Homo sapiens: one gene and its partners. The protein of the gene in region 5 interacts with the protein of the main gene of each other region in a pairwise test. Each region holds a gene or a part of one and is shown on either strand. Other genes may lie near its edges. The genes, in order: NUMBL, CDC42BPB, USP4, RNF216, RIPK1, TRIM38 and ANXA1.

The links.
Region 1: the proteins of RIPK1 (region 5) and NUMBL interact in a two-hybrid assay, tested with the Homo sapiens proteins (one large-scale study listed by BioGRID and IntAct).
Region 2: the proteins of RIPK1 (region 5) and CDC42BPB interact in a two-hybrid assay, tested with the Homo sapiens proteins (one large-scale study listed by BioGRID and IntAct).
Region 3: the proteins of RIPK1 (region 5) and USP4 interact in binary tests that used the Homo sapiens proteins (3 or more experiments, as listed by UniProt).
Region 4: the proteins of RIPK1 (region 5) and RNF216 interact in a two-hybrid assay, tested with the Homo sapiens proteins (one study listed by BioGRID).
Region 6: the proteins of RIPK1 (region 5) and TRIM38 interact in a two-hybrid assay, tested with the Homo sapiens proteins (one study listed by IntAct).
Region 7: the proteins of RIPK1 (region 5) and ANXA1 interact in binary tests that used the Homo sapiens proteins (3 or more experiments, as listed by UniProt).

The regions. Positions count from the first base shown.
Region 1 is NC_000019.10:40,684,152-40,687,651, forward strand, and holds part of NUMBL (numb-like protein), read right to left. Parts: intron 2,845-3,500; coding exon 2,760-2,844; intron 406-2,759; coding exon 266-405; intron 1-265. UniProt on the Homo sapiens protein: Plays a role in the process of neurogenesis. Required throughout embryonic neurogenesis to maintain neural progenitor cells, also called radial glial cells (RGCs), by allowing their daughter cells to choose progenitor over neuronal cell fate.
Region 2 is NC_000014.9:102,963,550-102,967,049, forward strand, and holds part of CDC42BPB (serine/threonine-protein kinase MRCK beta), read right to left. Parts: coding exon 3,497-3,500; intron 2,839-3,496; coding exon 2,733-2,838; intron 1,102-2,732; coding exon 953-1,101; intron 1-952. UniProt on the Homo sapiens protein: Serine/threonine-protein kinase which is an important downstream effector of CDC42 and plays a role in the regulation of cytoskeleton reorganization and cell migration. Regulates actin cytoskeletal reorganization via phosphorylation of PPP1R12C and MYL9/MLC2.
Region 3 is NC_000003.12:49,330,054-49,333,553, forward strand, and holds part of USP4 (ubiquitin carboxyl-terminal hydrolase 4), read right to left. Parts: intron 1-3,500.
Region 4 is NC_000007.14:5,712,164-5,715,663, forward strand, and holds part of RNF216 (E3 ubiquitin-protein ligase RNF216), read right to left. Parts: intron 3,028-3,500; coding exon 2,890-3,027; intron 701-2,889; coding exon 552-700; intron 1-551.
Region 5 is NC_000006.12:3,078,494-3,081,993, reverse strand, and holds part of RIPK1 (receptor-interacting serine/threonine-protein kinase 1), read right to left. Parts: intron 1,016-3,500; coding exon 878-1,015; intron 60-877; exon of another isoform or gene 1-59. UniProt on the Homo sapiens protein: Serine-threonine kinase which is a key regulator of TNF-mediated apoptosis, necroptosis and inflammatory pathways.
Region 6 is NC_000006.12:25,979,802-25,983,301, reverse strand, and holds part of TRIM38 (E3 ubiquitin-protein ligase TRIM38), read right to left. Parts: intron 139-3,500; coding exon 1-138. UniProt on the Homo sapiens protein: E3 ubiquitin-protein and E3 SUMO-protein ligase that acts as a regulator of innate immunity. Acts as a negative regulator of type I interferon IFN-beta production by catalyzing 'Lys-48'-linked polyubiquitination of AZI2/NAP1, leading to its degradation.
Region 7 is NC_000009.12:73,158,365-73,161,864, reverse strand, and holds part of ANXA1 (annexin A1), read right to left. Parts: intron 3,344-3,500; coding exon of another isoform or gene 3,330-3,343; coding exon 3,264-3,329; intron 3,171-3,263; coding exon 3,062-3,170; intron 2,537-3,061; coding exon 2,442-2,536; intron 1,603-2,441; coding exon 1,489-1,602; intron 1,063-1,488; coding exon 972-1,062; intron 1-971. UniProt on the Homo sapiens protein: Plays important roles in the innate immune response as effector of glucocorticoid-mediated responses and regulator of the inflammatory process. Has anti-inflammatory activity.

The DNA of each region.
Region 1 (3,500 bases), on a different chromosome or scaffold from region 5:
TCCGCCTCCCGGGTTCAAGCGATTCTCCTGTCTCAGCCTCCCCAGTAGCTGGGACTACAGGCGCCCGCCACCACGCGAGGCTAATTTGTTGTATTTCTAGTAGAGCCGGGGTTTCACCGTGATAGCCAGGACTGCCGGCCTCACGCTTTTTAACACCAACTTCAAACGACTTGGGCTGGTGTCCCAGCCAGGCCGCGCACCCGCACAGCACAGCACAGCGGCCCCCGTCCCCCTCGCCCCGCCGCACCCTGCCGCGCCCACTCACCCTGACCGGGAAGCTGCACGTGCCCTTCCGCACCGCGTCCTCGTCTGCCTGCCACTGGTGCGGGCGCGACGCCTCGGGCACGTAGGCTGGCTTCCTCCGCCGCAGGCTCTGCCGTAACTTGTTCATGGTGCCCGCCCCGTCTGGTGACACAGGACAGTGATGTGGGTCAAGGGTGGGGGTCAGAAGGTATGGAGCTCAACGGGGAGGGACCAGTGCTCAGGGAGCATGGGGTCAGATAACAAGATAACTGGAAGCGGGGTTACAGGGTCAGTTGGCAGCGCACATGGGATCAGCAGCTCAAGTCAGGGGACAGTGAGGAAAGGAGCCAACAGAAGCCAGGGGAGTGCGAAAGTTGGGCACTGGGGATTCAGAACCATGGGGCTAAGGGGCTGGAGGTCTGGGGTGGGGGGTATGGGGCACAGGCTTCAGGGCATTGGAGGGCTTCTTGTCCATGTGGTGGATGCTTCCTCATTCCCAGGGCCGTGAGGACACAAAGGGTGGGAAATCAGACGTAGGAGGGCATGGGGGCTAGAGGGCATAGAAGTCAGGGGCCGCACGGTCAGGGGTTTTAGGGGTATGAGAGTCAGGCAGTGGGGTGATCAGAGGGCAGCAGAGGAGTTGGGAATTGCATGGGTCAGGGGTGCAGGAGTCAGGTGCATGGGGTATGGGGGATGGTGGCTTGTCTCTGGAACTCTGAGACACAGCCATTCTGTGACAACTGTGTCTAGTCCCCAGGCAAGGCTTCTGGGGCCTTGCACTGATGACTGTCAGAGGCAGGGCTGTGGGTGTGTGGAGTGGGTGTGGAGGTGGCCAGCCACTAGGACAGTCTTCACTGATCAGCCATCCTGACAGTCCCAGGACTGGGAGCACCAACAGCAGAGGGGGATGTGTGTGTGTGTGTGTGTGTAAGCAAGTGTGCAATGGTATGTTCTGGAACGCTGTCTATGAGGGGCTCTATATCTGAGCAGGCAAGTAATGTCTGTGAGTGTGTTTCTGAAGGCTGTCTGGAAGAACGCATGTCTGAGAATGGTGTAGGATAGTGTGCATCTGTGAATGCTGTCCGTGAGGGATGCATCCAAAAGTGTGGTTGTTGTCTGTGAGTCTGAGGCCCTGAAGGTTGTTGCTGAAGGGCATCGATGTCTGAGAGTGGTTGTGAGTGTGTGTCTGCTGTCTATATCCGAGAGTGCCGTTGTTGTCTATGAGAACTTGTGGCTCAGTGCCTGTTGCCTGTGAGGGTGTGTCTGTGTTTGAGATGAGGCTGTCGTCTTTCAAAGGGTGTGTCCATGGCTGTTATCCATGTAGCTATGTCTCTGTGTGAAGGTGTGGCTATTGTCTGTGATGACATTGCCTCGGAGAGTGCATCTGAGGGATCTACAAGACTGTCTGTGTCCAAGAGTGCAGCTGTTGGCGGTGAGCCTGTGTGACTGTGGCTGTTGCCTTAGAGTGTGGGTGTGTGGGTATTGCACAGAGGGTGTATCTGTGTGCAGTGGTGCATCCGTTAGGGTGTGTGGGAACATGAGGTTGTCTTTGAGAGTGTTTTCATGAGGGTTATTTGTAAGGGTGTGACTGTTGCCTGAGAGAGTGCTGGGTGTTCTTTGTGAGACTGTGTGCATGTTTGTACACAACCGTAGCTCCCTGTGAGAGCCTGGGCCCGCGGGTGCTGTCTGTGAAAGTGTGGCTGTCGTCTGTAGAAATGTGGGTCTGTGTGTGTTGTCAGACTGTGCAAGAGTGTGTCTCTTTTTTTTTTTTTTGAGACGAAATTTTGCTCTTGTTGCGAATGAAGGCTGGAGTGCAATGGCATGATCTCAGCTCACAGCAACCTCTGCCTCCCAGGTTCAAGCGATTCTCCTGCCTCAGCCTCCCAAGTAGCTGGGATTACAGGCATGTGCCACCACCCCTGGCTAATTTTGTATTTTTAGTACAGACAGAGTTTCTCCATGTTGGTCAGGCTGGTCTCGAACTCCTGACCTCCTGACCTCAGGTGATCCTCCCGCCTCAGCCTCCCAAAGTGCTGGGATTATAGGCATTGAGCCACCACGCCCGGCCAAGAGTGTGTCTCTTGAGAGTGTGTATCTCAGAGTCTGTATCCAGCGAGCGTCTGTGGTCACCTGTGAATCTGGGTGTTGTCTAGGAATGTGTGTGTGTGTATATATGTGTGTACATTAGTGTGATGAACATCTACTTCAGCATGTGTTCAAGTGTGTCACTGCATTAGCAAGTGTGTGTGATCTGAAAGAGATCTGTGTGTGTGTGTGTGTCTCTAACCGTATATCTACAGATGTGAGTGTTTGTGACTCTGCACTTGAGGCTGTAAGGGTGTCAGGGTGTGGGTCTGTGCATGAGTGGGGCTCTGACAGTCGCTGAGGAAGATGCCTGAGGGTGTCCACTCATGAGTGTGATTAAGCCTGTGTGACCGCAGGGACAGCTCCTCTGGTCGTGTTAGGCAAGACCACATACCCATTCAGCCCTGCCCTGTCCCAGGCTGGTCGCTCACCTGGCTCCGTCCTGCAGGTTTCTGGGGGCCCCGGGGCCCCACAGGGGGCTGGGGGCAGGTGCCGCTCAGGCCTCCGGGGTCCGCCCTGCCCGAGTAGGGGAGGAGAAGGTGAGAAGTTTGTCTGGGTTGGGGCTCAGTCTGATACTTCACCCCGACTTTGGACTTCGGCCAGCCCCCTCCATCTTGGGCTCCCTGATGAGAGTCCTAGTTGTCCTAGCAACTGTTACCAGGGAGATCAGCCACCTGGTTCCAAGGGCCCAGGAAGGAGTAGGTATGTTTGGGGGGCATATGTTGGGGATGTGCTGGCCTCAGGAGAGCCTCACTGCCCAAGGGGATGCTGTGAGAGTGGCCTTGCCCTCCAGATGCATGTGCAGGGCTACACACATACGCAGCCAACTCATATCTACAGGTGTCCCTAGCATCTGGCCACAGCTTTACACACTTGGTTACACATAGACGCAATCACAGCTACACACCTCAGATCGCAGATACACAGAAACAGTCCCAAACCCAGAAAGCTGCCACTGTAAACATCTGGCCGCATATTCATGTTCGGACACACACAGTCTCTACTACAGACATTTGTCCACATACATGCAGCATGTCCTGGCCCACTCAGTTCCCACCGCAGACACCTGGTCACACCACCCACTGAAATTTGGTCACTTCCACATTCTCAGCCACATACAAAGAACGGGGCCCAGACAACCCACTAGAGCCGCACATGCGTGGCCACACCCA
Region 2 (3,500 bases), on a different chromosome or scaffold from region 5:
CACGGGTAGCCTTGCAATTCCAGCAACTTCGTGCAGGGGACAGAGGAAGTCAGGCTGCCACGGGGAACACCTGGCCGGGAGGGATGCAGTTTGTGGGGGCTGGTCCACTCATCAGTGGGGTGACAGTGGGCAAATCACCTGCGGAGTGTGTGTAAGTGGGAGTAACAAGACTGCCTACCCTGTTGGGCTGTGGGAGGGTCACAGGATTTAACAACAGAACAGTCTTACAGCAATTCCCAGTATAAAGAAAGTCAATTTAACTGAAACCTATTACCATTAATTTTTTAGCCCCAAACTAACAGGATTTGGGACTTGGTAATTCTGTTAGAGACACTGTCCCTTCCAGGTCCTCGCCTGCCTCATGGCACAGCAGAGCTGGCCTGGTTTTTATGAAACTGACGTTCATTATCGTATCCTCGTAAAACCAGATCTGCAAAGAGGAGACTCTCAGCAAATACTGACTGAATCACTGCTGTGTGAAAATGGCGTTCTCGTTACTGCTTGGAGTTAGGGAAAAATTTCAAGTGAGAATGCCATCTTCAACCTCTGTTTTAAAATATTCACGTTAGCTTGAAAGGAACAATCTTGAATTAGTGAATGGAGCGGCACGGAGGTGACTAAGCAGTGAGAGGGGCTCCTGTCAGACAGCGGTGTGAGTCTCGCTACCCAGCGTGGGGGCACAAGCACCCGCTGCCGTCAAAACACGGCTCGCACCGCACCACACCCCCCCGCGGCAGGCAAGGCCCTGCACCCTCGCGGCCACCTCAGTGCCAGAACGGCCTGCTATTCGGGGCTCCTGCAGGTGAACCCGACGTGCTGCCTCCTAAGGCTCCAGCAAACGCCGTGGCCCCGATTTTCCAGGCGAGGAGCATCGGAGCCCGTGAGGCTCAGGGCGGGCTCGAGGCCACACAGCCACTGCTCCTACCTGGAGTCAGACCCTGGCACCAAGTACCTTTCCAAGGTGAGGTTGGCGTCCTTGACCTTCCTGAGCTCCTCCTGGACAAGCTGCTTGGCCCGGATCTCCGCCTCCAGGGCCGACTGCAGCTCCAGCCGCGCGGACATGTCCAGCTTCTGGCTGCGGCGCACCTTCCACAGCGGGTCCTTGAGACACGGTCATGGCGTTAAAAATGCATTTTCAGTTATCCGCTTGTTAAACTAATGTTAACAAATAAGTTATCTTTGTCTAACCTTAAGCCATTACGGTCTCATTTAGATATTAACTCTAAATTATGGAGGTGCCTCAGGAGTTTTAGTTTTGATATTTTATGACTTTTTTTACTCTTCCTCAGAAATCTTCTAAAAAATAACTAAATAATTTACTTTATCTTTTAGAAGAATAAAAGTGATTCTGTAGTGCAATTTCTTTTCTTTTCTTTTCTTTTTTTTTTTGTTTGAGATGTAGTTTCGCTCTTGTTGCCTAGGCTGGAGTGCAATGGCGTGATCTCAGCTTACCGCGACCTCCGCCTCTTGGGTTCAAGCGATTTTCCTGTCTCAGCCTCTCCAGTAGCCAGTAGCTGGGATTACAGGTGCCGCACCACCATGCCTGGCTAATTTTTGTATTTTTAGTAGAGACAGGGTTTCACCACGTTGGCCAGGCTAGTCTCCAACTCCTGCTCTCGTGATCCACCCCCCTTGGCCTCCCAAAGTGCTGGGATTACAGGCATGAGCCGCTGCGCCTGGCCTCTGTAATGCAATTTCTATATGGGTCCACTGGACCCTGGACCCTTTTACAAACCTAAGGTACATTATAGGGTTCGGTTATCTTTTTCTCATAACTTGAAACGTTTTGCTATTTCACCATCCTGGGAATTATGTCATTACTCATTCCTACCTGTGATTAAAAAAAAAAAAAAAAAAAAAAGACTAAAATAATAAGGGAAGAATGACAGAGTGACCTAGGATGAAGCAACAGTGGAATAAGCCAGTTCACTAACATCATCCTCCTGTTTTCTTACTGAGTTGCCCAATGTATGACATCAACTTTCGAGAGGTATCAAAGAAGTCCAGAGATGCCATCTTGCTGTTTTTTCTTTTTTAAAACAAACTGAAAACCTTTCATTGAACACAATTGAGAATGCTTCATTTTCCATCTATAACAGTAAAGAGAAGAAAATGGACAGAGGAAGGCCAGGTGTGGGGGCTCATGCCTGTAATCCCAGCACTTTGGGAGGCCGAAGCGGGCAGATCACCTGAGGTCAGGGGTTTGAGACCAGCCTGGCCAACATGGTGGAAACCCGTCTCTACTAAAATACAAAAATGAGCCAGGTGTAGCGGCACACGCCTGTAATCCCAGCTACTCGGGGGGGCTGAGGCAGGAGAATCACTTGAAGCCGGGAGGCGGAGGTTGCAGTAAGCCGAGATCACGCCACTGCACTCTAGCCTGGGCAACAGAGTGAGACTGTCGCGGGAGGAAAAAAATAAAATACACACATCACTAAATGAACCAATGAAATTAATAAAAGCAAGCTCTCTGAGGGCAGAATCCAGTCTTAACTTGACACCACGGAGCTCAGTGCTCAGTAATTATTTGCTAAACGAATGAATGCTGTCGAGAGAAGCCATGATGATCTGAGAGCTGGCAAATGTTGGCGTTCCTTAAATTGGGGAACTGGTTACACAGAAGTCTCTTGCATCACTGTAATTCCCTAAATAGTACTTATATGTCACATTTATACTTAAAACCATTAGCGAATTATTCAGTAATAGAAATGCAGGCATTACACAAAACCTACCAGTGTTCTTGACCCCAGACTAGAACTCCTCAAAGCCTCGAGCTCTTCGGTCATCTTGGAAGCAAGAGCTTGAAGGTAACCCCGGGCATCTTTCTCGTCACTGACCCTGGAGGAGGGAACAGATGTTCTATCTCACGAAGCATGGCTATCAGGGAGAAGCCAAACAAGAAGGGGACGTTCCCGCCTTCCTCGGCACACAGTGACACAGTGTCACGTCAGCTAGAGTGCCCGCAGTGTACCCGTTGTATACACGGGATCTCATTGATGGATGCGTCGTTACATTGCACATGACTGCAGTTTAAAAAGACACCAAACTTCCAAGACTCAAGAATGAAAAAATTCTATTACTCCATAAATATATATACCTACTACGCACCCACAAAAATTAAAAATAAAAACTCTTTTTTTAATTACAACTTCACACCTTAGGAGCGGAGGGCCAGGTCCCAGCTCGCTCCAAGTCTCCCTGCTGCTTCTGCAGCCGCTTTGGGAGGGCTCTGCCTCCCCTGTCTCTGAGAACGCAAGGGGTGTGAACGGTTTGCCCCAAGTCCTTCAGTGGGTTGGTGGGGGCGTATCTCCACCTCTATTCCAACAGAACCACTGCCCCAGACATGAGAAGTTCTGGGGAACAGCAGTGAGACCTGCACCCCAGCCTGAGAGGCACGGCCTGGCGTGGAGCACAGGATCAGGCAGAAGAGGCGGGGCAGACCCCATGGACTGAGCAGGGAGCGGATTCACGGCCGCTAATGGGGCCGCGCACGTACCACT
Region 3 (3,500 bases), on a different chromosome or scaffold from region 5:
ACTTGAACCTGGTAGGAGGAGGCAGGAGAATTGCTTGAACCTGGGAGGGAGAGGTTGCAGGGAGCCAAGACTGAGCCACTGCACTCCAGCCTGGGCAACAGAGTGAGACTCTGTCTCAAAACAAACAAACAAACAAACAAACAAACAAAAAAAGTTGAAATTACTTCTTGACTCACAGGCTGCAGAACGGATGTTTTTAGTAGGCATGAAACAACATTAATCTCCTCATGCATCTCCATCAGAGCTCTTGGGTAACTAGGTACATTGCAATGGAGCAGTAACTTTTTTTTTTTTGAGACAGTCTCGCTGTGTCCCCCAGGCTGGAGTGCAGTGGCGCCATCTCGGCTCACTGCAAGCTCCACCTCTCGGGTTCATGCTATTCTCCCGCCTCAGCCTCCCGAGGAGCTGGGACTACAGGCACCCGCCACCACACCCGGTTAATTTTGTTTTTGTATTTTTAATAGAGACAGGGTTTCACCATGTTAGCCAGGATGGTCTCAATCTCCTGACCTCGTGATCCGCCCACCTTGGCCTCCCAAAGTGCTGGGATAACAGGCGTAAGCCACTGCACCTGGCAGCAGTAACATTTTGATAAGATTAGCTCAGTGCTTTTTCTGAGCAGTAGGTCTCAACCCTGAGCTAAAAATATTGGGAGGCTGGAGGCTGGAGGCCGGAGGCCGGGCGCGGTGGCTCCCACCTGTAATCCCAGCACTTTGAGAGGCCGAGATGGGTGGATCACGAGATCAGGAGATTGAGACCATCCTGGCCAACATGGTGAAACCCCGTCTCTACTAAAAATACAAAAAAAGTAGCCGGGTGTGGTGGCAGGCACCAGGCGCCTGTGATCCCAGCTACTCAGGAGGCTGAGGCAGGAGAATCGTGTGAACCCGGGAGGCGGAGCTTGCAGTGAGCCGAGATCGCGCCACTGCACTCCAGTCTGGGTGACAGAGCAAGACTCCGTCTCAAAAAAAAAAAAAATATTGGGAGGCCGGGCGTGGTGGCTCACACCTGTACTCCCAGCACTTGGGGAGGCCGTGGTGGGCAGTTACCTGAGGTCGAGAGTTCGAGACCAGCCTGACCAACAAGGAGAAACCCCGTCTCTACTAAAAAAACAAAATTAGCTGGGCGTGGTGGCGCACGCCTATAATCCCAGCTACTCAGGAGGCTGAGGCAGGAGAATCGCTTGAACCTGGGAGGCAGAGGTTGTGGTGAGCCAAGATCGCACCATTGCACTCCAGCCTGGGCAAAAGAGCAAAACTCCGACTCAAAAAAAAAAAAATCGGTAAACTTGTTGTGGTGGCTCATGCCTGTAATCCCAGCACTTAGGGAGGTCAAGGCGGGTGGATCACTTGAGGCCAGGAGTTTGAGACCAGCCTGGCCAAAATAGCAAAACCCCATCTCTACTAAAAGTACAAAAATTAGCCAGAACTGGTGGTGCATGTCTGTAATCTCAGCTACTTGGGAGGCTGAGCCATGAGAATAACTTGAACCCGGGAAGCAGAGGTTGCAGTAAGCCGAGATTGCACCACTGCATTCCAGCCTGGGCGACACAGCGAGATTCTGTCCCAGAAAAATAAAATAAAAACAAAAATATTCGGTATACCATGCTGTAAATAAATATGCTATCATGCAGGCTTTGTTGTTGCATGTGTAGGGCACAGGCAGAGCAGATTTAGCATAATTCTTGAGGGCCTTGGGATTTTTGGAATGATAAATGAGCACTAGCTTCAAACTAAAGTCACCATCTGCAGTATCCCTTAAGAAGAGAGTCAGCCTGTCCTTCAAGGCTCTGAATCTGGCCGGACAGAGTGGCTCATGCCTATAATCCCAGCACTTTGAGAAGTCAAGGCAGACAGATCACTTGAGCCCAGGAGTTGGAGACCAGCCCGGGCAACACGGCAAAATCCCATCTCTACAAAAAAAAAAAAAAAATACAAAGCTGGGCACAGTGGCTCACACCTGTAATTCCAGCACTTTGGGAGGTCAAGGCGGGTGGACCACCTGAGGTCAGGAGTTCGAGACCAGGCTGGCCAACGTGCTGAAATCCCGTCTTTACTAAAAATACAAAAAAAAATTAGCTGGGTGTGGTGGCAGGTACCTGTAATCCCAGCTACTTGGGAGGCTGAGGCAGGAGAATCACTTGAAACTGGGAGGTGGAGGTTGCAGTGAGCCAAGATTGTGCCATTGCACTTCAGCCTAGACGACAGAGCGAGACTCTGTCTTACAAAACAAACAAACAAACAAACATATAAAAATCAGCCAGGCATGGTGGCAAGCAACTGTAGTCCTAGCTACTCAGGAGGCTGAGGTGGGAGGATCACTTGAGCCCAGGAGGTTAAGGCTGCAGTGAGCTGTGATCACACACTACAGCCTGGGTGACAGGGCAAGACCCTGTCTCAAAAAAAAAAAAGGCTCTGAACCCAGGCACTGACTTTTCCCCTCTAGCAGCAAAGAGGTAGATGGCATCTTCCCAATAGAAGGGTGTTTTGTCTACATTTAAAATCTGTTGTTTAGGCCAGGCACAGTAGCTCATGCTTGTAATCCCAGCACTTTGAGAGGCCGAGGCAGGCGGATCACTTAAGGTCAGGAGTTTGAGACCAGCCTGGCCAACATGGTGAAACCCCATGGTGAGACTCTGTCTCAAAAAAATAATAATAATAAATAAAAATAAAATAAAATAAAACCTGTTGTTTAGCCTGGGCACAGTGACTCACACCTGTAATCCCAGCACTCTGGGACGTCAAGGCGGGAGGATTGCTTGAGCCCAGGAATTCAAGATCAACCTGAACAACATGACAAAACCCACAAAAAATCTCTGCAAAAAATACAATAATTAGTCGAGTGTGGTGGGGCCTGTAGTTCCAGTTACTCAGGAGGCTGAGATGGGAGGATCACCTGAGCCTGGGAAGGTCAAGGTTGTAGTGAGGTGTGATTGTGCTACTGCACGAGGTAGCAGTAGCTACCTTTTTTTTTTTTGAGACAAGATGGCACCTTGTCTCAAAAAAAAAAATAAATGAATAAACTTTCTCCATATCAGCAATAATAAGGCTGTTTCAGCCTCTTATAATTCATGTGTTCACTAGAGTAGCACTTTTTTTTTTTTTTTTTGAGATGGAGTCTCACTTCTGTCGCCCAAGCTGGAGTGGAGTGCAGTGGCGCAATCTCAGCTCACTGAAACCACCATTTCCTGGGTTCCTCCATCTCCCAGGCAACATGACAAAACTCCATCTCTACAAAAAGAAAAAATAAACACATACAAAAATGAGCCAGGAATGCTGGCAAGCACCTGTAGTCCTAGCTACTCAGGAGGCTGAGGTGGAAGGATCACTTAAGTCCAGGAGGTTTACATTTACATTCACAACTTGGCTAGCTATATGGCACAAGAGGCCTAGCTTACAACCTATTTCGGCTTCCTTAACCAAACTCAAATCATTTCTAGCTTTGATTTGAAGTGAGAGACATGCAATTCTCCTTTTCACTTGAACATTTAGAAGACGTTG
Region 4 (3,500 bases), on a different chromosome or scaffold from region 5:
GTGCCAAGATATGTAGACAGAAGTTTGAGCTACAGTCTGGGCGCGGTGGCTCACGCCTGTAGTCCCAGCACTTTGGGAGGCTGAGGTGGGTGGATCATTTGAGGTCAGGAGTTGGAGACCAGCCTGGCCAACATGGCAAAACCTCGTCTCTACTAAAAATAAGCTGGAATGTGGTGGTGCACGCCTGTAATCCAGGCTACTCAGGAGGCTGAGGCATGAGAATTGCTTGAACTCAGGAGGCGGAGGTTGTAGTGAGCCAAGATTGCACCACTGTACTCCAGCCTGGGCGACAGAGCGAGAATCCACCTCAAAAAAAAAAAAAGAAGTTTGAGGGGCAGATTTTTCCATTAATAGAATTACTGGTTACTCAATGGTTCTGAGGCGTAAAAAATAAAAATAAATAAGTAAAATTATTGATAATCTTATTTCTCAGCAAGAAATGTCAAAAAACCTGGAAGATAAACACAATTTTCATCATCTGATGCAAGTGCCCAGGTAGTTTTCACAATGGGGAAGAGTTGGCAGATGGCACGCTCTGCCTGAGAACGAACCTGACAAGCTCGTCGGCGTAGGCTGCCGCAACCTCCTCCTCGGCTTTTCGCTCATAGTACTTATACAGGATGGTCTGGGGGAGCACCTTCTCCAGCTCACTGGTTGGGAACGAACACGTGCAGCTGCCTTCCATGCAGCTGAGCTCCAACTAGAAAAAGGCGAAAAGGCAAAGAAAAAAAAATCAATACCATTTATAGAAAAATAAAAAGCGTCAGTGGTTAAAAACATAGATCCTGAGACAACATAGCAAGGATCTCTCTGCCTGTTCATCTCTGAGAAATCACACTTAAATCATGGAAACCATGAAACAAAAATCCAGTACATCTTTGATATCACTAAAGGACCTCTATTAGCCCAAATCACAATCCACAAAGACTGAAAGTGGCGGAAGGGCAAATGGCTTAGCAGACCACACACAGAAGCCCATAGCTTAGGGTCTGAAAAGGAGATGCTGGGGAGAAGTTGTTCCCCTCTACAGATATTAGAAAGCTGGAGAACCTCTGGAAAGCAGAGCTGAGTGGTGGGGAGGGGCAGGGACTCAAAGTAATAAACTGAAAACAGGGACATGGGTGGAGCCTCTAGTTCCTACCCGCTTCAGAAGGAATTGGCTGACTCTGAGAGAAATGAGGAAGATCTCCTGAACAGCTGGACCACACGGCTCTGGACTGGAAACCACTCATAGAGGAGAGCAGAGCTGAGGGGTGGCCTGAAGTCAGAGTCTGAAATGGAGTCTGCATAATGAACAGAGAACTCTCCAGACCTTTCCTCCCCCTCAGTTTCAGAATGTTGGAAAATGGGCTCACACCCACCAGGCAGGAGGCAGACTGAATCACCCCAGGTAAGAGACTTCAGAGCCATTCAGGTTCATAATATAAAAGCTAACTGGCTCCTATGCACCTAGAGTCAAACTCACTGGTCTATAAGCCCCACTACTCACACAGCTTTCAAACAGCTCTTTAACATGAACAAAAAGTGTCAGACATGAGGAATGCTTCCCACATGAAAGACAAACACCAAAGAAAACAAATGGAAAAAGACGACATTTTAAAAATAACTAGCTAAAATTTATGAGGCATTTACCATGTGTCAAACAATAAGTTCATTAAACTCATCACCTCATTTAGCTTTCAAAACAATGCTATGATTATTTCCATTTTACAGAGGAAGAAACAGTGGCTTAAGGAATTTAAATTGCTCAAGATCACAGGGCTAGTATGGCTGATGGGGGCATGGCCCAATGCATTCTGCTTGACTCCAAAGGTCACGCTCTTTGAAAAAACATAAACTTTATTTATTTATTTTTCTGAGACAGAGTCTCGCCCTGTCACCAAGGCTGGAGTGCAGTGGTGCGATCTCAGCTCACTAAGCCTCCCGAGTAGCTGGATTACAGGCACCCACCACCACACCTGGCTAATTTTTGTATTTTTAGCAGAGATGGGGTTTCACCATGTTGGCCAGGCTAGTCTCGAACTCCTAATCTTGTGATCCACCCAACTTAGCCTCCCAAAGTGCTGGGATTACAGGCATAAGCCACAGCGCCTGGCCTATTTTTCTTTTTTAGAGATGGAGTTTCACTCTTGTTGCCCAGGCTGGAGTGCAATGGCACGATCTCAACTCACCACAACCTCTGCCTCCCAGATTCAACCAATTCTCCTGCCTCAGCCTCCCCAGTAGCTGAGATTATAGGCATGCGCCACCAGGTCTGGCTAATCTTGTATTTTTAGTAGAGATGGGGTTTCTCCATGTTGGTCAGGCTGGTCTTGAACTCCTGACCTCAGGTGATCCGCCTACCTCGGCCTCCCAAAGTGCTGGGATTACAGGCGTGAGCCACCCGGGCAAAAAGTCATCTTCTTAATCACTGTGTTAGTTTTCTATTGCTGCTGGAACAAAATACCACAAACTCGGTGGTGTAAAACAATGTAAAATTCCCATACTGTGTTTGTTATGCTGGTGTCCAGAGAAACTCACTTTGGAGAGAGAAATATGATCTTGTGTAAAGTAAGTTATGTTATTTTAATATATATTTAATCCAATAGGCTGCAAGGTTCTCTCTTTCTGAGGTAACCTTCCCTCTGAATACAAATAAGATGATGAACGAAGGAGGTGCTCCTCTGCGGCTAGGCGTGGGAGTGTGGAAGAATTCTACTGTGCCCTGAAAAGAAATCTGCTGTGCTCAGAGAACCCACATAATCACATACATCAGGTAATGTACACATAAGCATACCAGCAGAACTCCACCTCACCCTCAAAGAGGCACTTACACTTATCTATCAACATGGTCTCCTTAGACTCCAGGAATGTGTCCTATATACATGGGACATATTACACAGTTCTTACCTTTCCAGATCCAAAGACTGCCTCTTGGGCATATCTGATGAGACACTCTTTGCAGAACAAGTGAGCATCTGCGCACTGCGTCAGCTCCTCGAATGGAAATTCCCCATAGCAGCAGCGACACTCAATCAGCTGGCCATCCTGCAGGCAGTCAAGAAACACACATGAAATGTCCTGCACTTAAGGAGAGGGGGAGCCTTGTCTCCCATCCTCATCTCTCTGCCACCCCCCACACAAATTCTGAGGTAAAGCAACCCATTTTAGGGGCCATAAAACAATGATATGCTGTTTCGTGCTATATAAATCTAGCTCAAGATACTAACACAGTATTAATCCATACCTAAAACAGCGAGGTTTTCGTGTTTTTTTTCTGGTATTCTTTAGAGTAATTCTTTATATAAAGTTATCATATTCAATCCCATGGTGCAAAGGGAACTAGAACATCTGTACTCAGATGCTAATGTGATTATAAACAGCAAGGATAAGGAGTATGAGAGATGTTACCCAAAAAACTTTCAAAAGTTGAATTTTGTTCTTGTCATAAGGAGTGTGAATGGGTCTATCGAGGTCTGCGCTTTATTTTAAGGGACTATTGAAGCTATAACTAAAGCAGC
Region 5 (3,500 bases):
ACTGATTTTTAAAATACAGACAGAAGTAAACAATCGAATACAAATATAAAACAAAATTTCAAAGTAGAGGTTTTTGATGCACTGCTGATTTTTTTTTTTTTTTTTTTTTTTTTTTTTTTTTTTTTTTTTTTTTAAGGCAGAGTTTCGCTCTTGTTGCCCAGGCTGGAGTGCGATGGCACAATCTCGGCTCACCACAACCTCCACCTCCCCGGTTCAGGCGATTCTCCTGCCCCAGCCTCCCGAGTAGCTGGAATTACAGGCATGCACCACCACGCCCGGCTGATTTTGTATTTTCAGTAGAGATGGGGTTTCTCCATGTTGGTCAGGCTGGTCTCGAACTCCCGACCTCAGGTGATCCGCCCACCTCAGCCTCCCAAAGTGCTGAGATAACAGGCGTGGGCCACTGCACCCGGCCGCTGATCTCACTCTTAGGCCATATCTGAACTCTAAGGATTTTCCGCACACACCTTCACATTCCCCTGCATTTCCAGAGGAGGAGAGTCTTGGTGACACAGATTTCCTGGAGAACATTATGACACCAATGGCCCATTCCAGGATGAAAAGGGCAACCCTTGAATGTTTCTAAATGTTTCTAACAGAGGAAAAAACACAGTCTAGGAAAGAGGTCTTCTCATCTACCCCATTCAACTCCACTCCTCCCCCAAAAGATATGAGTTATCCTGACAGTTATCTCCTGATCCCATCAAGCCTGCAGCCTTCCTCTCAATCACCGGTAGAGCCTTTCGGCACCATCATCAACAGTTATAAGCTGAGCTAGGTCTTCCTTTAGCTTCTCCAATGTACGAGAATGGATTTACATTGGAGAATTAAAACTAAAATCACCCAACTTTCTGGAAGCCTACCGATGATGGTTTACCTTAATGTGGAAGTCATTATCAACAAGGATATTTTCAGGCTTCAGGTCCTTGTGTATCACGCCTTTTCCATGTAAGTAGCACATTCCTTCAATGATTTCCAAAATTATCCTTCCTTTTACAGAAAGCGGAGTACTCATCTAAAACAAGTGATATTAAGTCTATGAAATGGAAAGGTTATCAAATAGGCCAAAGCAACTGTTTCATGAAAGGGTGGTGGGATCTGAGCCTGAGGAGAAGGTTACCAGGTTTCCTTCCAGCAGGTGCACCACAGTACTGCTGTCACTGGGAAACAAGAAAGATTTCATTCGGGGGGGGGCAGAGGGTATTCGTGTTGTATTTTGTTAGTGTAAAAACAAAAATCCCACAATAATTTGGTAATGCATAAAATACTATAAAATTAAGCTCCTTGAGAACAAAAATATATATTATTTAGGACTGTATCTTTAGAACCTAGGATTGTACCTGGAATGCTTGTTGAATGAATGGATGAATAAATATACGAGCAAGCAGTTTCTGTGGGATACTCACACGACATCATACTAAGTTTACATTAAGGACATGAACAATGCCATGCAAATGTCGCGTGTAAAATAACATTAAGAGAAAAAAGAATACAAGGGAACATGTTCACACTGATTACAATCATAGAAAAATCTGAGATAAACATGATGTTAAAACTACGCTTAAGTGAATTAATATCTATTTGATGACCTGGTAGCAGATACTTCAGGCTTCTGTAGAGTCTCAGGTCACTGGTTCTTATAATTGTATTCTTGTTATGTGAGCATCAATACTAACAGAAACAATTCCAGTTTCTATTATAGTGGTTAAATTACAGTTTTGCTTAACAATAAAAAATCAGTATACAAACAAGATGTTTCCTAAAAATGTATATGTATTTTGGTCGTTGGTTAACAGGAAAAAAATTTTAATGATAGAAGTGAGATTCCCCCTCAAACCATATTTATGACATAACGTAGCAGAGCTACACTGTTAATAGCTTGATCACCACCATACAGAAAGTAGCAGAAAAGATGTTTTCTCTTCTTCCTTGGTATACCTTTGGACTTAGGAAAAACTTCTGAGTAAGCAAAGTTGGTCCCCCTCTCTCCTCTCTTTCTGCTTCTCTCTCAGGTCCTCCTGATGCCCTGACTGAGTCCAAACAGGTGCACCTGAACTTTCCCTCATCTTGCACAATGCCTCATGTCCCCAATGATTTCTCTCTCATCTCAGAAGCTAAGCAGGGTTGGGCCTGGTTAGTACTTGGATGGGAGACCAAAGACTTATTTCCCAATCAAAATGTTTACTTCAAACAGCTGATCTTCTCTAGTTCTGGGGTGGAGAGCAATCTGATCAAACTATAATACCATGCGTATAAGTGATCACCTCTTCTCCTTCCCAAGGGTATTTTTGTGAGATGTCTGTTGGCTTGGCAATTGTGGGGTGGGAGAAGAAAGTGGAAAAGTGGGAGTATTTGCCATAAAGGCAGCCATATCCCGCCACCCCTCCCCATACCCTGTGCAATCTATGCTCTAGCCAAACCCAGGAATTTACAGTTCCCCAAATTTGGCAGTCTCTACATGGTATTCTCTCTGCCTAGAACACTTGTTCTCTAATTCTCTGCTTCAAAACGTCTACATGTCCTTCACATTGGAAGCCTTTTCTGTCTATTCCAGGCTGAGTGGGTGCCTCTCATGTGTACTCCCTCAGCAATGAGTATGTCTATCAAAACACCATCAGCTGGGAACGGTGGCTCATGCCTGTAATCCCAGAACTTCGGGAGGCCAAGGCAGTCGGATCACGAGGTCAGGAGTTCGAGACCAGCCTGACCAACATGGTGAAAACTTGTCTCTACTAAAAATTAAAAAAATAGCCAGGCATGGTGGTAGGCGCCTGTAATCCCAGCTACTCAAGAGGCTGAGGCAGGAGAGTTGCTTGAACCAGGGAGGTGGAGGTTGCAGTGAGCCGAGATTGCACCATTGCACTCCAGCCTGGGCGACAGAGCGAGACTCCTCTAAAAAAAAAAATACCACCACACAGCTGGGTGCAGTGGCTCATGCCCATAGTCCCAGCTACTCAGGAGGCTGAGGTGAGAGGATCATTTAAGGCCAGGAGTTCAAGCCTGCAGTGCACTATGATTGTGCCACTGCACTCCAGCCTGGGCAACACAGTGAGACCTTGTTCTCTTACAAAAGAAAAAAAAAAAACCCCATCACACCATACCACTTATTTAGCTATCTGCCTCCTTTTACTCTCCTACGTCATATTAGCTATTGATTCATGAGCAACTAGCGCAAGGCCTTCATCTTAACAGGCACATAAGCTTTTAAAAATGTTTTCAAATCATTTGACTTTGGTAAACAATTTTTATTTTTGTTTTAAATCCTATCCAGTGTTGTTGCCAATAATTTCTATATTTAATTTAAAATAAAACTTTGTTGAATGGTATCAAAGTGCAACCACTAATATTCTATCTGCTCTCACGGTCATTTATAGTGTATATCCTTTCATTAATCCATATTTAATGTCATCCCATCATGCATATACTCTACATCAGATGATGTCTGCATCATGAAGACAGGGCTTGTCTCTGAACTGTAGATTGCAGAGCAGCGGACAGGT
Region 6 (3,500 bases), about 23 Mb from region 5:
CCAAGACACAGGGGAAGGCAGTAAATCTCCTGGAAGATGTGTCCTGATTCTCCTGGGTGTATCCACGAGTCACTTGTCTCCGATCCTCAGAGAGAATTAGTTCGTGATGAGCTGTATCTGGATCCAGAGTCACACTAACTGCAAAACAAAACAAAACAAACAAAAATAATTTTGTTGCTGTGAAGAACACAGGTTATTTTATTTTATTTTATTTTGAGATGGAGTGTTGCTGTCACCCAGGCTGGAGTGCACTGGCACTATCTCAACTCACTGCAACCTCCACCTCCTGGATTCAGGCAATTCTCCTGCCTCAGCCTCCGGAGTAACTGCGACTACAGGTGCGCACCACCACAAGTGGCTAATTTTTTTAAATTTTCTGTAGAGATGGGGTTTCGCCATGTTGGCCAGGCTGGTCTCAAACTCCTGACCTGAAGTGTTCCACCCACCTCGGCCTCCCAAAGTGCTGGATTACACAGGTGTGAGCCACCATGCCCAGCCACAAGTTATTTTCAATAAAACCAGCCTGTGTTCAAACCCAACTATTGTTTCTTATAAACTGGGTGAGCTTAGGCAAATCATTTAACTTTCTGAGCCTCAGTTTGTTAACTATAAAGTGGAAATTACCGTATTTGTTGCAGAGAATGGTGGGTAGGATTGAATAAGCTTATGTTTGCTTAATGCTTGGTAAAATTCCTGGTACATGGTAACCACCTAATAAGTGGTAGTTGTTGGGGTGATCAGGCCCAACACCAGGCCGTGGGGGCTACAAAGTCCGGCGGGGTCAAAGGAATGAGAAAAGACAAGTTAAGAGTGCATAAAGTGGGTCCAGGGTGCCAGCACTAGATTGGAGGCTGCAAAGGCCCTAAGCTCTGGGAGCCCACACTATTTATTGGTGATCAAACAAAGAAGCAGGTGGTGAGGACGTGAGGGTAAACAGGTGAGGGCATGAGGACATGGGGGTAGAAAGGTAGTGGTGCATTAAGCGTAGCTGTGACAGTTTAGCATTTTCTTTGACACATGTAGAATATACTCTGCTGCTTGAGATAGTAGAGGACACGTTTATGAGTGAAAAGCAAGGAACCAACAAGTCTGTGCACTTTCCAGAGGCTATGAGGGGTTTTATGCCCTGAGCCCTGGGTTCCATCCAAGCCACAAGGGGTTTTATGCCCTAGGCTTAGATTTGTGGTGCGGCAGGGCAGCCTTCCACCATTTGGCACAGAGCTTGGTGTTCCAAAGGCCACGAGGGGTTTTGGACCCTGGACCCCGGACATCTTCCAAGACTCTTTTACATTATGACAGACAAGCCAGTCCTGCTTCAGCTCTTCTAACAACATGTAGTAATAATGATATCATCAACATCATCTTCGTCTTAATTATTCAAGGATGCCAAGGTACAGAACTAACCTGTTAATATGGTTACCATCCTGTCCAAAGTTCTTCTCCCATGCAGGACTTCCAGGAATCATGAGACAGTTGAGCAGAAAGATACCTTTTCCCTTCTCTACTGAATAACCACCAACATTGAGAATCAGAGAGGGAAAATGACTCAGCTAATGTCTTAGCTTGTTATTGGAAGACCCAGGTCTCATGACACATGCCTAGTCCCATGACTTTTAATTGTAAGCTCTTCTCTTTCCCCTCAGATAATGTTCCATAAGCATTAGTATGAGATAATAATACACTGAGGACCAATATACATGAAAAATATCAGACTAGAATCAAACAAGACAGAAAAAAGATCTGATAACCTAAAGTGAGATACTGAACAGTATGCAGTTTTAAAAATAAAAAATGGTAATAGGATGTTCTAACAAGAGAGTTAAGAAACCACTGTGCTACTGAGTTAAATGTTGATCAGTTGGTCTGTGACAATTAAGGAATTCAAGTATTCAGAAACACTTCCTGTGCTGGATGCTCTCTGTTTGTTCTTCCAAATAATCCCTCACTTTTCCCTGTCTTGCTCTGTGCCCAGGAAGGCTGACATGGACAGATTAACCAGGCTTTCCGCCCTCTGGCTTGGTTCAGCCAATGGGAAGCACCAGAGGAGACCATAGGGCACAAAGAAGCAGCCTTGGGAGTATTCAGTACCCCAGTCCCACGCTATGATTTGGAGGGTCTGCATTCCTCTGCCTCTGGGCACACTCTAGTATAGTTACAGCTCCCTACACCTGCCACTTGAGGCCCAGAGGAGGTGATGGCTCTCTAACTGTTCCTAGTTCTGGGTGCTTCCTGTTCCTTGTGGATTTCCCAACTCCTCACCTTTGTAAATACCCTCCTTTTTCAAACTCTATTCAGTTAGCTTTTATCAGCCTGACTCACAGAAGTTTGGGGTTTCAATTCATATTACCTGAATGACCCAGGAAAACCCATGTTGAGAAATTAAAATGTTTACGGGGTGGTAATACCACTTAAGAGAAAAAATATCAATTGGATTTTTAAAATTCCACCTATCTATTGGTGTGACACATCAACAAAAACATATAGAAAGATTGGAAGCTAAAAGATAGATAATATAGTCATATACTGTTATAGTATTATATCAAAAGATATTAAGTCAGAGCATTATTAAGAATGGAAGAAGGGCCAGGTGTGGTGGCTCATGCCTGTAATCCCAGCACTTTGGGAGGCCAAGGCAGGCGGATCACTTGAAGCCAGGAGTTCAAGACCAGCCTGCCCAACATGGCAAAACCCTGGCTCTACCAAAAATACAACAATTAGCTGGGCATTGTGGCACATGCCTGTAATCCCAGCTACTTGGGAGGCTGAAGCACAAGAATCACTTGAACCGGGGAGGCAGAGGTTGCAGTGAGCTGAGATTTCGCCACTACACTACAGCCTGGGTGACAGAGAGAGATTCTGTCTCAAAAAAAAAAAAAAAGAAAGAATGAAAGGAGTCACCTAAAAAAGATAACACAATTTTAAACATAAATGTACTACATTATTAGTGAATTCATGTTTAGAATTGTGTTAATATACAAAGCAAAAATTGTAGAATTATAGGAGAAATGGACAAATCTACAATCATCATGGGATGTTTTAACATTCTTCTTTCCATAATTGATAGATCAGGCAGACCAAAAGAAAGAAATAAGGGAAGATACGGAAGGTCTGAACAATCTAAGAAGCGCAATCTCATAGTCAATACATAAAGCTCAGCAATTGTTTAATAATAGTAAGCAGAGAATATGCAGTTTTCTCAGGTATAGATGGAACATGCACTAACTGAGTAAATACTAGGCAGAAAACAGTCTGAACAAGTTTCAATAAATCTGTATTACACAGATCATTTTCTCTAGCCTCAATATAAGATTATAAACCAATAATAAAAAGATGACTAAAAAGATTCTAAATATTAGGAAATGTAAACTACTAATAAGTCATTAGAAGATGTATAGAATGGAACAATAATAAAAAGTTATTTATAAAAATATACAATGAAGCTAAAGCAGAATTTTAAGGAAAATTTGTAGGCTTTAAATGCTTATCTTAGAAAAATTAAA
Region 7 (3,500 bases), on a different chromosome or scaffold from region 5:
ATAAACTATCACTGGCCTATATCTTGGCCATATGAAAAATATATAAACACTTATTTTTATAAACTATGTTTTATCAAACAAAAATAATCATCATTATTACCACTGACACATGGATCTAACATAAACATTGGTAATTAAATAAGAATTGCAGAAAATGAGGTTTAAAAGCTTCCTTATTTTTATTCTTTTATTAAATTCCTCTGAAAATGATATGCAAAAGCTATTGTATTCTCCATGCTTGGTATGAGAATCAAGCAGAAAGATCTTCTATATGCCATATATTGCATTGGGAAAGCCAAAAAGCCAGCAGCTCAGGGAAATGAGAGTAGGAAAATGGTAAGAGACTTGCAATTACCCTCTTTTCAGTGTTGAGCACATCATTTAAATGAGATGCTTCACTGGAGAGATAAAATAAGCTAAGACTAGTCTTTTATTCTGTGAATTTAACTAGAGATAAAGTGAGTCTCTTATGTTCATAACGATAAAGTTAAGGTTTCCAACAGAGAATTATAAGCACCTAATTCTTTACTTTTTCAAGGACAAATGAAAAACATTTTGTTAGGAGATTTTTTTGTTATTATATATTCTTTTCAAAAAAAATGACCTTGGGACATTTTTATAAAATACATTCCAGAATAATAGAAAAGTGTTTTTCAGAAATTTTTAAAAATTCAATGCTCTGAATTGAGGTTTCCATTATAATCGTATGTGGCCATTTATCCTAGAGGAACATTTTCTATTAAAACGCAAGCTTGATGCGGATTGGGACACCATCTCCCTTGTCAGCAACCTAGCAACTCAAGCGTTGCCTGGTAACAGCATTTAATAGACATGTGCCAAACAATAAAGAAACATTTTGATATGTGGAGATTCCAAAGCTGCCATAATTACCATAGACAGTCAATTTTAAGAAAGTATATTAGATTTCCTTTTCAAATAAGGCGTTTGGACTGTTGGACATTACAACTTACCCTCTCTGTAGACCCTGTTAATGTCTCTGATTTCTTTGTTAGTTCTTGATGCCAAAATCTCAATTAGAGTATCTTCATCAGTTCCAAGGCCCTAAATTTGAAGAGAAGAAAAGGATAAATGTAGAAAAAAATCTTCATGCAAGAGGATCAATGAGTTTTTGGTGTTCCAAAATTTGTTTGACTCTGTCATTTAGTAAATTTCACCCACAACATTTAATAATTACAATAAGCTCTATTACATTGCCCTAAAACAAAACAAGTTTATCATCAATATTTTGGGTAAAAATAAAAATGCAAATATATGACTCATATAGTGACATGACATGGAAGGTGTTAGTGCCAACATTTCTGTTTTCATTTATATATTAATTCCTTCATTGAGGTATTAATTTATTTATTCTTCAAACTCCCACTGATTGACAGGTACTATACTAGATTTTGAAAATAACATAAGCATAAGTGACTTGCCCAATACATCCTCTTGAGGAAAGGAGTTTGCTCAAATTGGGCGATTTACCTTCATGGCAGCACGAAGTTCATCAGCATCAAATTGCGCTGGAGTTTTTAGCAGAGCTAAAACAACCTCCTCAAGGTGACCTGTAAGGGCTTTCTTCAGTGTTTCATCCAGGGGCTACAAAAAAAAAGATTAGAATCAGGACTTCCAATAAGTAACATGCTAGGTTAAAAAATGTGATATTACCTGACTTTAGGTCATCGTACAACTCATCCCTAAACCCAACCATCTTTTAGAGCTTCTTCCCTTCACATACAAAGTGTACCAAATATTTTGAAACATTATCTTACCCTTCCAGATCTAGAGGGATTAAAATAAAATTTACTGAATTCATCAATAACTTCTTAAAGCATAGGGTTAGTAATCTTATACACAGGGGAGAAATCACAAAGATCAAAACACAGAGGACTGTGTGCTAACAGAAAACAGAAGTAAAATTACTTTTAAAATAATATATTCATGTTTCCAATCTTTGAGGTTTGTACTTCTCAAATAACAAGCAGTATAATCAGATACTGAAATTATATAGTTTTCTAATTTCATTGCTTTAGAAAACTACTCATATTTGGTATAAAAGACATAAGGCTTATTTTTAAAGTAGAATTATATATAAAATTTAGGCATTAAACAGTTCAGTTTAAATATTAGTACATTTCAATCAGACCATATTCTTTATTGACAGCAGCAATCTCGATGTTTACGTTCAAATTAAAAATTTGTCCCCAGAGCACCACATCTGCAAACAATATACACCAAGATGACTAATGTATAAAAATAGGAAATTTGATAAAATTGATTAAATTGCAACAAAGTGGATAAACACTGCAATCCCAATCATAGATGTAATGAGAAAACAGTGGTTAGAACCTTAAAGAACTAGGTAACTGTGCTTCCGAATCCATGGTTAAGTATAACTATGCTGAAATTAAATATCTAAATTTACCACTCTAACTTACCTTTCCTGTTTCCTGGAGATATGCTGCTTTGATCTGTTGACGCTGTGCATTGTTTCGCTTAGTTAGAATGTCAATGATGGTTGCTTCATCCACACCTGGAAATAAAGGGCCAACAGCCTTTAACACCAATTTTCTTCATCATCAATTGACATAAAATAATTCATTACTGAGATGCTCCAAAAGAACTTCTTAACAAATTAAGAAATATAAATTATATATCAGCCTAAAAAATCGATGCTATACTACATATCAAGGAAGCACTTGGGAGAATGACATTTCATTCGAGTGAGAAAGGAAGAGACAATTAACTTTTCCTGGCCCTCAGTGTTGCAGTGTTTGATACTAGTTGCAACTCTATATGTGAACAGAGCTTTTAATTTCAGCATGGAATTTCTGCTAGAAATGAGCCAGTAATATCTGCTGTAACAATAGAGATTCCACTGATGTGAACACAATTTCCTCAGTGTTAAGTAAATAATTACATCTTCGTTTGGCAAAGAAATGTTTTTATCTTCAAAATGAAACAGATTCTTTCCATTGCACATGTCTGTTTTTTGACAGTCATTCAAATAGCCATTCTGAAATGTCCAGGAGGGAACTGTTTTGAGGAAACACGTTACCTTTAACCATTATGGCCTTATGCAAGGCAGCGACATCCGAGGATGGATTGAAGGTAGGATAGGGGCTCACCGCTGATCCGGGACCACCTTTGGATGACTTCACAGTTTGCTAAGAATGAGAGAGAAATAAATTAATGGCCATTTACTTATATTCGTTTTTATTTCAATATTGTAATCATAATTTTATTATCACTCTACTTACAACATATTCCTGCTCTTCATTTTCAATAAACCAGGCCTGCTTGAGGAATTCTGATACCATTGCCATTTTTGAAAAAGTGTCTGGAAAGAAAACAGTTAGATGCTTTTACAAAACAAATGCACCACACACAACCTCTCCTTCCTCACCTCTTACATACATAAGAGTTAGCATTAGAGAGTAGCCTTGCGCTTACTTTCCAGGATCAATTACACTTAGGAGCATAACAAAATGTAAGAC